2 separate regions of the Homo sapiens genome follow, and region 1 is linked to region 2. The links come from fine-mapping of genetic effects on gene expression. Tissue or cell type: esophagus muscle. Region 2 holds a variant in brackets; the other region holds the start of a gene. All regions are shown on one strand. Distances are from middle to middle.

Evidence for each region. PIP is the estimated chance that this variant, and not a neighbour inherited with it, causes the effect.
Region 1: it holds the start of WNK2, and the variant in region 2 is fine-mapped to the expression of WNK2 in esophagus muscle (GTEx, PIP above 0.99). The same link has a PIP of 0.9 or more in gastroesophageal junction and sigmoid colon.

The regions. Positions count from the first base shown.
Region 1 is chr9:93,180,778-93,188,921 of GRCh38, reverse strand. WNK2 (WNK lysine deficient protein kinase 2) reads right to left here and starts at 4,783. Exons shown (of 30, transcript NM_006648.4): 1 at 4,537-4,783; 2 at 3,312-3,994. The coding sequence starts at 3,992. RefSeq lists an enhancer at 1,780-2,745.
Region 2 is chr9:93,157,339-93,165,518 of GRCh38, reverse strand. No RefSeq gene overlaps it. Among named protein-coding and RNA genes, the nearest start is that of WNK2, 23 kb to the left of the region's middle. RefSeq lists a silencer at 5,277-5,406. The variant G/A (reference allele first, on the strand shown) is at 3,561.

The DNA.
Region 1 (8,144 bases), 23 kb before region 2:
AAGATTGTGCTGACCCAACAGAAGGTGGCAGAGCAAGGGGTGGCCACAGCACCACGCCAGGCACCTCCCCGTTGCTGTATTGTGGCCTCACCACCCCCTAGAGGAGGGTCTTGTAGAAGGTCAGGCCAGTGACCCAGATCAGCACCCCCAGGGTAGCTGGGCCGGCTATGGCAGGTGGCAGACGCTCCCAGAGCCGACACGGAGCCCCAGGCTACCCCGCACCCTGTCTGACAGTACAGGGGTCTGTGGGGGAACCAGGGCTGGCCAAAGATGACCACAGGAACACAGGACATGTGGGCAAGGAGGAAGGCGGTGGGATTCTGGTGTTTTACTTCCTTGTTACCATAATGTGTTCTGCTGCCAAGAATAAAAGTTTATTCAAGAGAAGAATGACAGGGAGGTATTTTAAAATGGCTTCCCCCACAAAAAACAGTGCAGGTTCCAGCTTTGCACATCTGGAGAATTCAGAAGGTGAAACACCTCACTGCCCTTCGATGTGAGATAAATAAATATTACCCTCTCTACAGAGTTCTTTCAACACTAATTTATCAAAGGAAATCAGATGTCCTCTAAGCCAGGCTTACTAGGTCCACATGAAGGCGTTTCTCCCGTCTGGCAGGGAACCCTGAAAAACACAAGTGAGCCCCACTGGCGCCTCTCAGTTCTCCAGGGAGGCCCCCCAGCCTGTGGAGGGCAGAAAGGGGAACACAGCCCAGGCACCTGGACAGACTGCAGGTGCTGCGGGAGTAGGGGAAGAAAGGGATAGAGGCCAAGAGCAATTCCAAGAAGGGCTCCTGGCTGAAGGCAACATCCCCCTAGACCCTCCCTCTACAGTGTAAAGCGTGACTCCCAGGAACCCTCCCCATGCCCAGAATGCTAGCGGTCATGTGCAGGATGGCATCTCCACACTGTGGACTAAGAGAGCCCCTCACGACACAAAGCCAACACACCTAGAGAAGGAGCACCCACCTGTCACCCTTCCCTGCTCAGTGAGACCTGACCCCACATCCCACCCAGGAGCACACTCCCCTCGCAGAGTCCAACGCCCCTCCCACAGCCCCTGATCTCCCTGCAGCCCTACACCCCACCCTCTTCCGTTCCACACGCCCAGCAGCCCCTGGCCCATACCCAGGACATCACACAGGCAGTCCCATCAGTCCTTCCAATAGCTCTGCACAAAGTCAGCCTACACCACTCTACACACAGGCAGGGGCCCTCCTCCCCTGATCCCACAATGCCCTGCCATCTCCTCACTGGTGACCTTGGGGGTTGTTCCCCTCAGTCCTCACAGTTTGTGATGACGAGACTTCCAGCACAGCCCCAACACACACCAAGTTCTCAGCAAAGGGGGCTATTCTAAGCAGGTCCAGACTCCCTCTCATGGAAAACCCTCTCAGATCAGCACAGAGAGAGCTGATCCCAAATGACACACATCGACTAGGGACAAATGTTGGAGGTACTTCTTTTGGGGGAGATGCAGGGAAACCACAAGTTTGGGGCACCAGTAACATCCTGGCAAGGAACATCAACATATAGACAAAAAGCATATAGACCAGAAGCACCTCTCGGTTGCTGTTCCCACCTAGAGTCAAGGAGCAAGAGACCCCTGGACAGAGGCCAGGCTCCACCCCATGCCTGCAGGGGACAGACCCAGAGACAGAATCGCCTGCGTTTCCTTAAAGGGAATGGGAACTAACAAGCTCCAAGAGTCACATGCGCCTGCGATGCCTCAGCCAGATCAGCAGGCTCTGGCTGCCGAGGTCTAACTCAAATCCAGCCTACTGCAGCACCCCTGTTCCATCCACCACCCTGCAGAGGCAGCACCTGAGGGTGCTCCGGTCAGAAGGGCAAGAGCAGGAAGACCGCTCGCCAGAATCAAGAGTCGTCTCCCCTTTCAGGCCCTCTCTTCTCTCTGCTTTCCCTTGCAGCAGGAATGCCCAGCACACCCCAGGACCCCCAGATCACAGCCCCCTGCCCCACCCACTGCCTTTCCTGTACCATCAGAACCTACAGGACCATGAGGGAGGGGAGCTGTTCAGTCCCTCCTAAGGACCTCACACAATGCCACTGACCCCTAACTTGAAAAGCCACATCTCCAAGGCAGAACCAAGGGGTGGTGGAGAGGCAGGTCTCTGGAGCTCTTTGTCTTGGGAGAAAGGCTGACGACAGGTCGACACCCACCGAATTATCCAGGCTTGCACACACACGCAGGCCACCCTGTCGGGGCCGGAGGATATAGCAATTGAATCCCACTTCTGAGTCAAAAATGCAAGAGTCCCGCAGTGTGGCCAGCGGCCCCAGAACACAGCTTGCCCCAGCTAGCCCCAGCCCCGTTTCAGGCCTGGACTGGACAGCCAGCTAACTTTACAGGCCAACAGAGTACACTTACACCTCCAGCCGGCACTCTCCCAGACTGGCTCACGCCTGACAGCTGCCCACCTCCAAGGAGGGAGGCCTGTAAACACCCCCTGGACAGGCATGGCCTCTGCTTCCTAGGCTGTCCCAGGACAGCTAAGGTGGCTGTTTATATAATCTTGCAGGGCTGGGGCTGACACCACGGTGATGGCAGGATTATGAAAAATGCATGCCCAGAGCCTCTGCAGCCAAGAAAAACCCCCACACGCATTCTGCATGACTCGGTTTTAAGACCTCTCACACGTCCATTTTGTGAACAAATGGAGCTCTCAGAGCAGCAGAGGCGACTAACCACACTTCCAGGCCTTGCCCAGCTGTCCCCAGAGCTCTACCAGGCACCACCTCTGGGTCACAGGCCCTGGGTCAGAAGAAGTCTCTGCAGGTATCCCTGCTGGGGCAGCCACGGCTTGCTGGACACAGGAAAGTACTAATTTATGGGCAGCCCAGAGCCCCCAAAACACTCTGACTGCACACACCGGGCCTTGAAGCCTCCACACTGTTTTGCAAAGACACAACAGTCCAGACTCCCTGGGTCATTAAAGTAGGTCATCGGGACTGGAGAAGCAGCAGCCTAAGAGACACAGCCTCCGAGGCCCACTCTCCAGGACCCTCTCTACGCCCACAGCGTGCACACTTACACCAAACGCACAACAGAGGCCTGCCCTCGCCACCAGCTGACTCACAAACCGCAACCTGCGCACGGACACAGCCAGGCCCCACATGCCGTCCGCACACCTGGTATGCATCCTGCCAGCCATCCACACAGAGGGTGACACACATGGAGCCCCGCCGCCCCCAGGGCTTCTTAAGGCCAGGCGCAGGAGCAAGGACAGGCCCAAGGACGCACTCGCGGACAGACCCTGCGGAAAGCCCCCTGCGGGCTGGGGCACCCTCACCTGCAGCTCACACCAGGCCACCTCCACCCAGGTCTCCGTGTCCAGCCCCTTGTAGACCGTCTTGAAGGAACCGCGGCCCAGCTCGATGTCGAACTTGAGGAAGCGGCCGTCCAGAGAGGTGGCCACGGCCTTGAGGTCGTCCTCGTCGTCCTCCTCCTCTTCGGGCTCGTCCCGGCGAGTGCGCCCGGGCTCAGGCTTCGCCTCGGCCGCCCCCTCATCCTCCTTCCTCACGGTCGCCGCCGCCTCCTCCCTGGGGCCGCCGTCGGGGGCAGGCGCGGTTTCGACAGCGGCTGCGATGGGGTCCGGGCCGGGCTCCTGCGTGCCCACGGGCTCGGGGCCGGCGTCCGCGGGGGCTCCGGGGGCTCCCGGCTGCGCTACCAGCGCTGCGGGCGCGGGGGCGGCGGGGCGTCCGCGGGCGCGCTCCGCGATGAGGCGGCGCGTCTTGCAGAGCAGAAGCACCCGGCGCTGCAGGGGCTGCGGGGGCTGCGGGCCCGGCGCCTCGGCTGCCTCCAAGCCCGGCGGCTCCTCCTGGTCCGACTCTACCACGCTGCGCCGCAGAAAGCGCTGGGGCCCCGGCCGCGCCGCCTTCGCCCGAGGCTCCGCCATGCCCGCGGGCCCCGCGCCGCGCCCGGGCTCCATCAGCGTGCCGGGGACGTCTCGGCGGCCGCCATCGCCGTCCATCTCTGTGGGCCAAGGACACACAGGCCCGCGTGAGCGCCGGCCCTGCCGCACCTGCCCAGGCCGCCGGATGAGACAACGCCGCCCTAAGCCCGCAACCTGCCCAGCCCCGGCCGCGGAGAGAGCCTGCGGGGGCCGTCTCTGGGGGCCCTGGGAAAGGGGGGCTGCAGACGGGACCAGAGGCTTGGGTTGGGGAGGAGGGGTCCGTGCCCTGCTCAGCCCCAGGCTGCGGAGAGGGACGGGCCTGTGGTGTCCCTGGAACCCTGGGAGAGAGGACCTGCTAGGGTGTCCCTGAGGGCCCCGGAGGCCGGCAGAGGGATCTCGCGCCCTGCCCAGCCCTGGCCCAGGAGGGTTCTGCTAGGCTGTCCCGGAGGCAGCTGTAAAGGGGATAGGGAAGCCCGGGGGTGGGAGGAAGGCAGTGGCCCGGCGGCGGCTCCACAAAGGACGCGGGCCCGGGGCGCGGGAGGGGCGCGCGGGGAGGGGGCTGCAGCGCCGCGGCGCGCACACAAAGGCGGCGAGCGGCGTTGAGGGGAGGCTCGGCACTCACAGGGCGAGCGGACGCCGTCCATGCCCGCGGCCCGGCGGCCAGGGCGTGCGAGGCGGGAGAGATCACGCTTCGAGGACGGGGTCCGAGTTCCGGGCGAGGTCCGCGCTGGGGTGGGGGCCGTGGCGCCGCTCCAGCTCCTGCGCGCTGCTCTCTCGGGCCGGGCCACTGCGGGGCCGCGCTCCCGCGTGCTCCTGCCGGCTTCGCGCGGCTCCGCTCCCGCACCGGCTCCGACCCGGCGCGCGGGGAGGGCGGGGCTCCGTTCGCCCCGCCCCGGACCGGCGCAGGGGGCTGGGCCTGGCACGCCCACCTGGCTGCGGACGGGCTGGCTGACTGGCAGGCGCGCGCGGCCACCTGCGGGCCGGCTACCTGGGCTCCCACCCGCGGTTCTTTGCTCGAGGTAGCGCTCCTGTCCTCTGAAGTTCTTTGGAACGCCCCGCAGGGCTGTCAGCTGCGGAGGACCCCGTTTCTTCCTGAGAGGAGGCAGCAGGCTCAACGCCTCAGCACGCCGCAGCCCGGCGCGCTAGACCTCAAGGCCCTGTGCCAGGACAGAATGGGCAGGCTAGGAAGAAAAGGACCAGGGGTACCGCCGCCCTCGGGAGCCCAGCCTGGGGCTAAGCCTGGTGGGGCTCAGCGTGTCCTTTCCTGCCCTCACTTCACCACCAGGAACCATGAGGACCTCATCATCACCCAGGGAGGCACTGGTGATCATTATGCCCATTTCACAGTCTAGAGCAAACTGAGGCGCCAAAGGCAGAAGTTATATGCTCTAAATCCCAGAACTTTCAAGACCGAAGCTGAGCTGGAATGCCTTGGATGGGATATGGAGAGGCTTCCAGAAGCCCCTTGACCCAAAGTGTTCTTCCTTCCCACCTCTGCCAGATGCCACCTCTCCCGAGAAGTCTTCCATGATCTCTAGCTCCTTCCTCCTCTAGACCCCCACGGACAAGCCCTCTCTTGGGCGTCTCTGGCCCTAATGCAGCAGGTGACCTGTGTCAGTAACCATACTGCTAAGTTCTGAGCCCTGCTCCAGGCAATGCCCTGAGCTAACACTTCACCCTTACCCCAGCCTCCATGATCCTAGGTGAGGAAACTGAGGCACAAGGGAGATACCAGAGTATTCTCATCTCAGTCCCCATCCCACTGGGCTGGCACCCCCATCAGATACACACACACTTCCAGAGATGAAAAGATGCTTGTGGGCCTGTAGGCCTTGGAGCCCCTGGCACAAAATAACTCATGTGGCATAAAAGCCAGCAGAGGCGATATCTCACCTTCACAATGTAGAGGGAAGAATATGCCAGGCCAACTGTTACCCAGAGAAGCAGGACTTCCTGGAGCCCCGCTGGGCACTGGCACTGGCTGAAACTAATTTGTGAGGGGCAACAGTGAACATCCCTTCCCAGCTCTGGGTTCAGCAATGCCACCCTGTAGCCTGAAGTCAGCAATGCTGGGAGTATTTACACTGCGGAAATTGGCAAACACCTCAAATCAGGACTTTTCTCCCCAGAGAGCCAGTGGTTAAATAGTGTGCTAGGTGTAGGGCTATGCATTTGGCACTTGCCTGTTATTTATATAATCTAATCTACCGTGTGAGACAGGCATTCATTCCGGGGCTCAAGTCCGCTGGCATGAGCCCAGAGCTCACACGAGGAGGAGGCCAAACAGCAGACGCCAGCTCTGCAGGACAGAGAGGCCTGAGGGACAGGGATCTAAGTTGCATCTCCTGGGGCAGGAGTCTTCCAGGTAGAGGTCAGGGGTGGAAAAGGATCTTTTCTGTCTTCCCTTTGGAGGCTAAAGACCCCCCAACCTTGCCCCTAACCAGCTGAGTGAACTTGGGCAAGTCCTGGTCCTTCCTGAGCCTCAGTATCTGGCCCTGCAGAGTGGGCTGATCATCCTGACTTGCCCACCTTAAAAGGCTGCCAATTCCTTGTAGATTCAGTCAATCTAGGAAGGGCACCAAGTCCACAGACCTGTTCATGATGGGTGTGTTCAAGCCTATCCAAGGGAAAACCAGGATGGGACAGAGCTAAGCGTGTTCTGAGACCAGCACACACCTATCTGGCCTCCTCCTGCTCCCAACAGGCCACACTGGCAGTGTGTGGGCAAAATACCTGCCAGCATCGGAGAAGGTTCATCAGCACCCATGGCTGCTGCCCACCCACACTTGTACACATGCGTGGGAAAGGATGGCTACACCCACAAATCAGCAGGGAGCAGCCCAGGCTGTGGGGAGTGGGGGACAGCCTGTCCCTGAGAGAGTACTGTGTGCTCTCTGAGCCCTTGGGGTGAATTCACGCATCTCTGCTTACACACCTCCCATGGTGGAGAGCTCATTCTCTCTGCCAACCCATGACCATTAGGGTACACAGCTAAGTCAGTAGTGGACAGGTCACAGTTTCCTCTGCAAGGAATCTCAGGCTGGGCTCAGGAGCAGCTCCTGGGATCCTGGCAGATGGAGCCTGAGGGATCCTTGGACAGACCTTGGAAGTCAGGACTTCACAGCACTGGCTATATGCCCTTTGGCAGGTCACTGGATATCTCTGAGCTTCCATCTCCCTGCTGCTAAGACGGGGAGTATAAATACTGTAGTCTGCTTTACTGGGTGTCCTGAGGCTGCATGATCCAGGGTCATGATGCCAGCATTTGTCTTTTGGAGGTTTGTTTTTTGTTTTCTGCTTTTGTTTTTGTTTTTTTGAGATGGAGTTTCACTTTGTTGCCCAGGCTGGAGTGCAGTGACGGGATCTCAGCTCAGCTCACTGCAACCTCTGCCTCCCAGGATCAAGCAATTCTCCTGCCTCAGCCTCCTGAGTAGCTGGGATTACAGGCGCCCACCACCACGCCCAGCTAATTTTGTATTTTTAGTAGAGATGAGGTTTCACCATGTTGGCCGGGCTGGTATCGGACTCCTGACCTCAAGTGATCCAACCACCTCAGCCTCCCAAAGTGCTGGGATTACGGGGCAGCATTTGTCTTCGATGTTTAGAACAGATGAGTACATTGAGGTCTTGCCCAGAGATTTTTCAACTTTAAGTAACTTTCTCAAGGCCTCAGAGTGGAGACAGTGACCTCTACCCACAGCTATCACCTTAGCTTCCACAATGCCAGGGAGCCCCTTTGGTGAAAAAAGTTTCTCCCAAGTCCAGGCTATGCTCCAGCCTACCCAGCCAGTAGGCACGTGCAGGCACACACCTGCTCCATGCAGATGCAGTTCCAGGAGCTGGGCCTCAGCAAGCAACAGGACCATGGTTTCAGTTTGCTCATCTGTGAGATGGGCATAATGGTCATGCTCAACAGTCTTGGCAACAAAAGGCATTCAACAAATGCTCATGAAAGAAGGGAGGAAAGGAGATGGGGCTAGCTCCACTGCCTCTGCTCACATCAGGGCCCATTGAGGGTCACTGGCTAGAAGGAAGAGCAGGGTCTAGCCATGCCCAGCTGGAGCTCAGTCCACAATTGCCCCGTGGGGCAGGTTCTGCCTCTGAGTGGAGTCAGGCAACCTATCTAGTGCTCAGGTCCAGTGTGGCCAGGCCACTTGCCTGAGTGCCCCCCGGGTCACACCATGGGGAGAATACCCTGGCAGGGGCATCAGATGGGGAGGACAGTGCTGG
Region 2 (8,180 bases):
CCCCACCACACATCCACTTACAGACAACCCCATCTCTCATTTCTGGAGTTTACACACAAACAAGAGTGCAGGTGCTTAATTTTCCTCGTTTGTTCACACCGGAAGAGCGTGCGGAAGCCGCCGCTCAGTACTTCCTTCTCAGCCTAACACTATGCTTCAGAGATCTTCTACACAGTCTACATGAGGGGTCCTTGTTCTTTTTGACAGCTGTGTAGCATTCCCCCTGGCCAGAGGGATCATGGTTTATGTAACCAGCCCATTCTGCTTTTGCAAATAAGGCTGCAATGAGCCTGTGACTTGCTCATGTCATGCCCCTCTGTAGGATGAATTCCTAGAAGTGAAGTTACTGGGTCAAAAAGTTTATGCATTTGTAATTTTGATAGCTTTTGTCAGATTGCACTCAAGAGAGACTGTACCAATTCACACTCCCTGCAGCTGAGGCAGGGGAGTGTCCATTCTGCAGCCTCTCCTATGGAGAGTGTTAATTGACTTTGAGATTAGGAGAAGACCAGTAATTTCCATGTCTCTTGTTACAAGGGAGGCTCAGCAGTCTTCCCACGGGTCAGGGGCCATTCTTTTTTTTATTTTATTTTATTTTTTTTGAGATGGAGTCTCACTCTCGTCGCCCAGGCTGGAGCACAGTGGTGCTATCTTGGCTCACTGCAACCTCCGCCTCCTGGGTTCAAGTGATCCTCCTGCCCCAGCCTCCCAAGTAGCTGGGATTACAGGCAACCACCACCAAGCCTGGCTAATTTTCTGTATTTTTAGTAGAGACAGGGTTTCACCATGTTGGTCAGGCTGGTCTTGAACTCCTGACCTCAGGTGATCCACCCGCCTCAGCTTCCCAAAGTGCTGGGATTACAGGAGTGAGCCACCGCAACTGGCCGGGTCAGGGGTCATTCTTATTGCTTTTCTGCCAACTGCCCACACCGGGGCTGGCGTCTTCCTGCCCCACCGTAAGGGCCCAGGGCTCCAACATGAGTCCTGAGTGTGGGGACACCTGAATGATGGCATGGCTGTCAGGACAAGGCCTCCCAGCCTCCAAATGTCTGGCCGTGGGAAGGGGAGAGCCTCAGCCGCAACACGAGCCTGCTCTCAGCTCATGTGTGGCATGGTGTGGACATGGCACCTTCCCATAGCCAAGACAGCTAGGCTCCCTGCCCACCACTGAGCTCAAACCTGGGCTCCGCCATCTCCGTAACTGGAAAGCAGAAACAACACCGGCACCTCCTCCTGGGGATGTAGGGAAGAGTCAGTGTCCGGTGGCTCCCGGCGGCGGAAATTTGTCCCATCATCGCGGCTTACCAAGGGGAAGGTGAGCCTCTGTGGTGTAAAAGGCTTGTCCCAGCCCTGGCCATTCCACGACTCAGTTGGGCCCATTTCCCTGTCTCCACTGCCCTATCACCAGAGTGTCCAGGGAGAAGCTGGATGGCAGGGCAGGGCACCGAGGACCCCAGGAGCCCAGCCGTGGACTTTGGATCTATCTCCCTCCCTGCTCCCGACACCCTTGTCCTCAGTACTCAATTGTGGGTTCTGCCTCCTCAATCAGATCCCAACTAAAAAGTCACCTCTGCAGAGAGAAGAGGTTCCTGCAGGGCTCTCTGGTGACCTTCATCTGTGCTTGCAGCCCTGCCTGAATCACCCTCCAATTTTATTTTATTTTTATTTTTATTTATTTATTTATTTATTTATTTATTTATTTATTTGACACAGAGTCTCGCTCTGTCACCAGGCTGGAGTGCAGTGGTGCAATCTCGGCTCACTGCAAGCTCCATCTCCTGGGTTCAAGCCATTCTCCTGCCTCTGCCTCCCAAGTAGCTGGGACTACAGGCACCCACCACTGTGCCCAGCTAGTTTTTTGTATTTTTAGTGGGGATGGGGTTTCACCATGTTAGCCAGGATGGTCTCGATCTCCTTACCTCGTGATCTGCCCGCCTCGGCCTCCCAAAGTGCTGGGATTACAGGTGTGTGCCACCACGCCTGGCCCATCGCCCTTCAATTAAAGTGTCACCATCTCCCTTGCCAGCAGGTCTTAGCATGAGAACTGTGTCCAGCTGACCCTGGGCGCCTCCCCAGTCCTCAGCAGAGCCTGAGCCGCTGGAGGTGAATCATGATGGGATTTCAATGAGCAAGGCCTCCACTAGGCTCTGAAGGCAACCCCTGAGCCCAAGACGAGTGCTGGGGCTGTGGCCACTGGAAGTGTGACCCCGGGGGCCTGATGGCCTCCATTCAAGTCCTACCCAAGGCCACCCCAGGCCACACCTGCCTGAGGAAGAGATGCTCTAGTCTGGGGGCACTGCCACAACCTCACCTCCTGGGCCTCAGTTTCCTGTCTACAAATGGTGTCATGGCACTGCTGGTCCCACAAGGCCACTGAGGGGGCAGAGTGGATATCTGCAGGGCTTGGAGCTGGTGGCCCAGGCTGTATCAGCTACTGTAGTTCTATGCACCCAAGACCCCAAACTCCTGAGTCCACCCTTCCTAAACCCTGGACAGTGAGGGATGCTGGGACCGGGTTGGCATATTACCACTGCCCAAGGTCCCTGTCCTCACTGTGCCACATGAGGGGAGGCTGCTGGAATGACTTGGCACTTAGTTCATACCTGGGTTCCTGCCAGTCACAACCCCATCTCACAGGTCACCAGGCAACCTCCCGAGAGGCCCAACTCCAGGCAGGGATCAGCAGAAACCCCCAGGCCTGCCCATGCCCCTCCTCATGGCCCTCAGGCCTGCCAGCAGCTCACTGAAAGGGACACAGCTTTGGATGGTTCTGCAGCAGGGCCACTTGTAACACAACATTAATTTGTCATTCTGTTGAATATGTTAATTTACTCAGAGATATTGTTTGTAACTTTGGAATTGTTTTGAAAATGTGCATAAGTTGTACATGACACAAAAAGTCAGGATGGTCAGGTCTAACCTCCAGTGGATGCAGGAAGCCCCTCCCAAGTCCCTGACAGGTGTCTGCCCAGAGGTGCCTTACTGCATTCACATCTGTCATGTCACTGCCCTGGGACAGTGAATAGCCCTGCCTCTGCCTGCACCGCCCGGCCCCTCAGCTCTGCCTCGCTGGACACACTGCCGACCACCAGATCGGCCATTACATTCCAGCCCAGAGAAAGAATCATGGGGTGAATGAATGAGAACATGAATTAGAAAGGTCAAAAGTTCTGGAAATTGGGCAGAAATGCGTAACAACATCCTGGAGGTTGCCAAGAGGCCAGCATTGCAGGGAAATGCCCAACCATCCGCTACAAAATTCTCAAGCTGAACAGCACAGTTTACCGAGATATAATTCACATAGCATAAGTTTCATCCTTTTAAAGTATATAATTCAGTGTGATTTAGTATACTCACAAAGTTGTGCGACCATCACCACTAAGTCCATAAGATTTTCATCACCTCTAAAAACCCTGTACTCATTAGCAGTCACTTCCCATCATCCCCTCACCAGCCCCTGGCAACCACTAATCTACTGCCTGTCTATAGACTTGCCAATTTGGCACATCTCATATAAATGGAATCATACAGTATGTGGCCTTCAGTGTCTGGCTTCTTTC[G/A]TCTGAGCTGCTTCCAAGTCATCTGTGTTTAGCCTGCATCAGCACTTCATTGCTTCTTGTAGCTGAATAATATTCCACTGAATGGATAAATCACATTTTGTTCATCCATTCACCAGCTGGTAGACATTTCAGTTGTCTCCACTTTTTGGTGATTGCGAACAGTGCTGCAATAAACACTCATCTACTGTGTTTTTGTACATGTCTAAGTGGAATTACTGGGTCAAAAGGTAATTCTTTTTTTTTTTTTGAGATGGAATCTCACTCTGTCACCCAGGCTGGAGTGTGCAGTGGCATGATCTCGGCTCACTGCAACCTCCACCTCCCGGGTTCAAGCGATTCTCCTGCCTCAGCCTCCCGGGTAGCTGGGATTACAGGCGTGCACCACCACCACACCTGGCTAATTTTTGTATTTTTAGTAGAGACGGGTTTCACCATGTTGCCTAGGCTGGTCTCGAACTCCTGACCTCAGGTGATCCACCTACCTCGGCCTCCCAAAGTGCTGAGATTATAGGTGTGAGCCACCGTGCCCAGCCGTCAAAAGATCATTCTATGTTTAACCTTTTGAGAAACCTCCAAAATGGTTTTCCACTGTGGCAGCACCATTTTACATTCCCACCAGCAATGTGTGAGGTTCCAGCTTCTGCAGGTCCTCGCCAACACTTGCCCTCTGCCTGTTGGTTTTGGTTTTAATGCCGGCACACTGGAGGATGTCACCTGCCCTATGCCTGTTTTTTTGTTTTGTTTTGTTTTAGACAGAGTCTCGCTCTGTTGTCCAGGCTGCAGTACAGTGTCACAATCTCAGCTCACTGCAACCTCCGCCTCCCAGGTTCAAGCGATTCTCCCGCCTCAGCCTCCTGAGTAGCTGGGACTACAGGCACCTGCCACCACACTCGGCTAATTTTTGTATTCTTAATAGAGACGGGGTTTCACCATATTGGCCAGGTTGGTATTGAACTCCTGACCTTGTGATCTGCCGACCTTGTGATCTGCCCGCCTTGGCCTCCCAAAGTGCTGGGATTACAGGCATGAGCCAACGCACCCGGCCTGCCTGTTGGTTTTAATGTCGGCATACTGGAGGGTGTGGGCAGTATTGTGCTGTGGCTTTGGTATGCTTTTCTTAGGTGACTGATGATGTCAAGCAGCTTCCTCATATTCGTTCTCCATTTGTATCTCTCCTTTGGAGAAATGTCTATTCAGATTATTTGCCCAGTTGTGAGTTGGGTTGTTTGTCTTTCTGTTGTTGAGTTTTAAGAGTTCTTTATGGGCTGGACACAGTGGTTTACGCCTGTTATCCCAGCACTCTGGGAGGCCGAGGCGGGTGGATCACCTGAGGTCAGAAGTTCGAGACCAGCCTGGCCAACATGGTGAAACCCCGTCTCCAATAAAAATATGAAAAAAATTGGCCAGGCATGGTGGCGGGCGCCTGTAATCCCAGCTACTCGTGAGGCTGGGGCAGGAGAATCGCTTGAACTCAGGAGACAGAGGTTGCAGTGAGGCGAGATCGCGCCACTGCAATCCAGCCTGGGCAACAGGAGCGAAACTCCGTCTCAAAAAAAAAAAAGAGTTCTTTATATTCTGGATACTGGTCACCTATCAGATATAAGATCCTTGCAAATATTTTTTCCCATTCTGTGGGTTGTCTTCTCAAAAGTTTTTAATTTTGATGAAATCCAGTTGATCTATTTTTTTTTCTTTGGCTGCTTGTGCCATCAATCTTTTGGCCAGACCGCCACACTCTGGCCGAGGCCCTGCCCCTCCCCTCTGGGCCCCTGGTCACCTCCTTTCCCCTCCCACACCAGGCCTGCTCTCAGAGCCCAGGTGCGCTGCGGCCCCTGCTGGCGGCTGTAGGCATCGCCAACCCTGTCGTCCCAGTCCTGGGACGCGCCTGCTGCCCTCCCTCCCTGTCCGCGCGGGCTGGTTATCAAGGCTGACTGGCTTAATGAGGGGCTCTGAGAACATGGGAGTTAGAAATGATAAACTTGACAGACCAGCATCTGTGCTCAAGGCTACTGTCATTTTCCCAGGAAGGGAAGGAAAGGAAAACATTTCCCCTTCCCTGGTCCAGGTCCAGCACTAGACCACAGCCATTCCTCATTTCATGCTACCCCCACCCTGTGAGGTCAAGATTCTCATCCCCATTCAACAGAAAAAACCAAGGCTCAGGGAAATGTAGTGAGTGCTCAAAGTTCTAGGGTTACTAAACTCTAGAACAGGGACTGACTGACTGACTCACTCATTCATTCAACAAACATTTGTGAGGATGTGCCTCATACAGACCCCCTGCTGAGCCCAGGCACGTGGCAATAAAGAGAAACAGAGACCATGTTCTGGCGAGCTCACAGTCTTGGGAGACAGACAGCAAATAAGAGCCATAGGGGAAGTTCGGCGCGGTCGCTCACGCCTGTAATCCCAGCACTTTGGGAGGCTGAGACGGGTGGATCACTTGAGGTCAGGAGTTCGAGACTAGCCTGGGCAACAGGGTGAAACCCCATCTCTACTAAAAATACAAAAATTAGCCAGGTGTAGTAGTGCATGCCTCTAATCCCAGCTGCTTGGGAAGCTGAAGCAGGAGAATCGCTTGAACCCGGGAGGTGGAGGTTGCAGTGAGCCGAGATGGCGCCACTGTACTCTAGCCTGGGTCACAGAGTGAGACCCAGAGGTCACAGAGTGAGACCTATCTCAAATAAAATAAAATAGCCATAGGGAAGTCCAGGCAGGACCCCCAGGAGCCAGGAGCCAGGTTCTGGAGTTTAGAGTCGGGGATCTGTTGGGGGAGTATGGGAGAAGGAATGTCACTCTCCTGGAGCCCACAGCCCCATGCTGACGTCTGACTGTAAGGACTGGAAGCTTCGTGGTCCTGCTCCTGCTGCAAGCAGAACCTATTGCCCAAGATGCCCCCCGACCCTCCAGGGGCCTGCCTAGTGGTTCTGTTACCAAACAGAAGAGTCACAGACAGAAGCAAAGTGCGGGACTGAGAGAAGGCCCCTACCCTTGTCCATCCGTGTGGATAGACAGCCTATGTTTGTGTTTGCTTCACACATCTACAAAAAGACATTCTGGAAGGAAACAGAAGACCTAAATACATAAATAACCATGGCTGCCTGGGTGGGGCAGTGGGGACAGGCATGGCTGGGAGGCCTTTTGAAAATGTAAACAGTTAAACATCAGTATTCAAAATTTAAAAATAGAAAGCGGCCAGGTGTGGTGGCTCACACCTGTAATCCCAGCACTTTGGGAGGCCAAGGAGGGCAGATCACCTGAGATCAGCAGTTCGAGAGCAGCCTGGACAACATGGTGAAACCCCATCTCTACTACAAATACAAAAATTAGCCAGGCATGGTGGTGCACACCTGTAGTCCCAGCTACTCGGGAGGCTGAGGCAGAAGAATTGCTTGAACCCGGGAGTCAGAGGCTGCCGTGAGCCAAGATCACGCCACTGAACTCCAGCCTGGGTGACAGAGCAAAACTCTGTCTCGAAAAAAATAAATAAATAAATAGGAATGATGAAAATGTTCTAAAATTGTGGTGATAGATGTACCACTCTGTGAATATACTAGAAAGTACTGAATCATACACTTTAAACGGGTGCATTGTATGGTATGTGAATTATATCTTACTAAAGCTGTTTAAAAAGGAAGTGGGGGCCAGCTGCAGTGGCTCACGCTTGTAATCCCAGCACTTTGGGAGGCCGAGGCAGGTGGATCACTTGAGCCAGGAGTTTGAGACCAGCCTGGCCAACATGGGGAAACCCCGTATCTACTAAACATACAAAAATTAGCCAGGCGTGGTGATGTGTGCCTATAGTCCCAGCTACTTGGGAGGCTGAAGTAGGAGGATCCCTTGAGCCCAGGAGGTTGAGGCTGCAGTAAGCCATGATCACACCACTGCACTCCAGCCTGGGTGGAAAAAGTGAGACCCTGTCTCAAAAAATATAAATAAATAAATAAATAGGAAGGGGAAGGCCGGGCATGGTGGCTCACACCTGTGATCCCAGCACTTTGGGAGGCCAAGAGGGGGCGGATCACCTGGGGGCGGATCACCTGAGGTCAGGAGTTCGAGACCAGCCTGACCAACATGGTGAAACCCAGTCTGTACTAAAAATACAAAATTAGCCAGGCGTGGTGGCGGGCGCCTGTAGTCCCAGCTACTCAGGAGGCTGAGGCACGAGAATCTGTTGAACCCAGGAGGTGGAGATTGCAGTGAGCTGAGATCCTGCCACTGCACTATACCCTGGGCAGCAAAGTGAAACTCCATCTCAAAAAATAAAATAAAATAAAAATAAATAAATAAACGAATAGAAAGGGGAAAACTAACAGTGCTGAAAGTTGTTCACTGAAATGTGAGAGTGGTGCAGATGGGGGCCAGGGAGACCTACAGATAGATGTATCAGCCTGATTTCGCACAACCCGGGGATGGTCAGCAGGCATCAGAGCCCCCAGCAGGCTTGCTAAAATATAGACTCCTGGCCTCACCCTCAGACCTTCTAAATCAGTGGGGTGGAAGAGGCCAGGGCCTGAGAATCTGCATTTCCAACACGTTTCCAAGGATGCTGGCACTGTGGTCCTGGGATCCTCTTTGAGGGCTGCTGGCCTAGATGGCCTTTGGTAGCACTGGGCACCT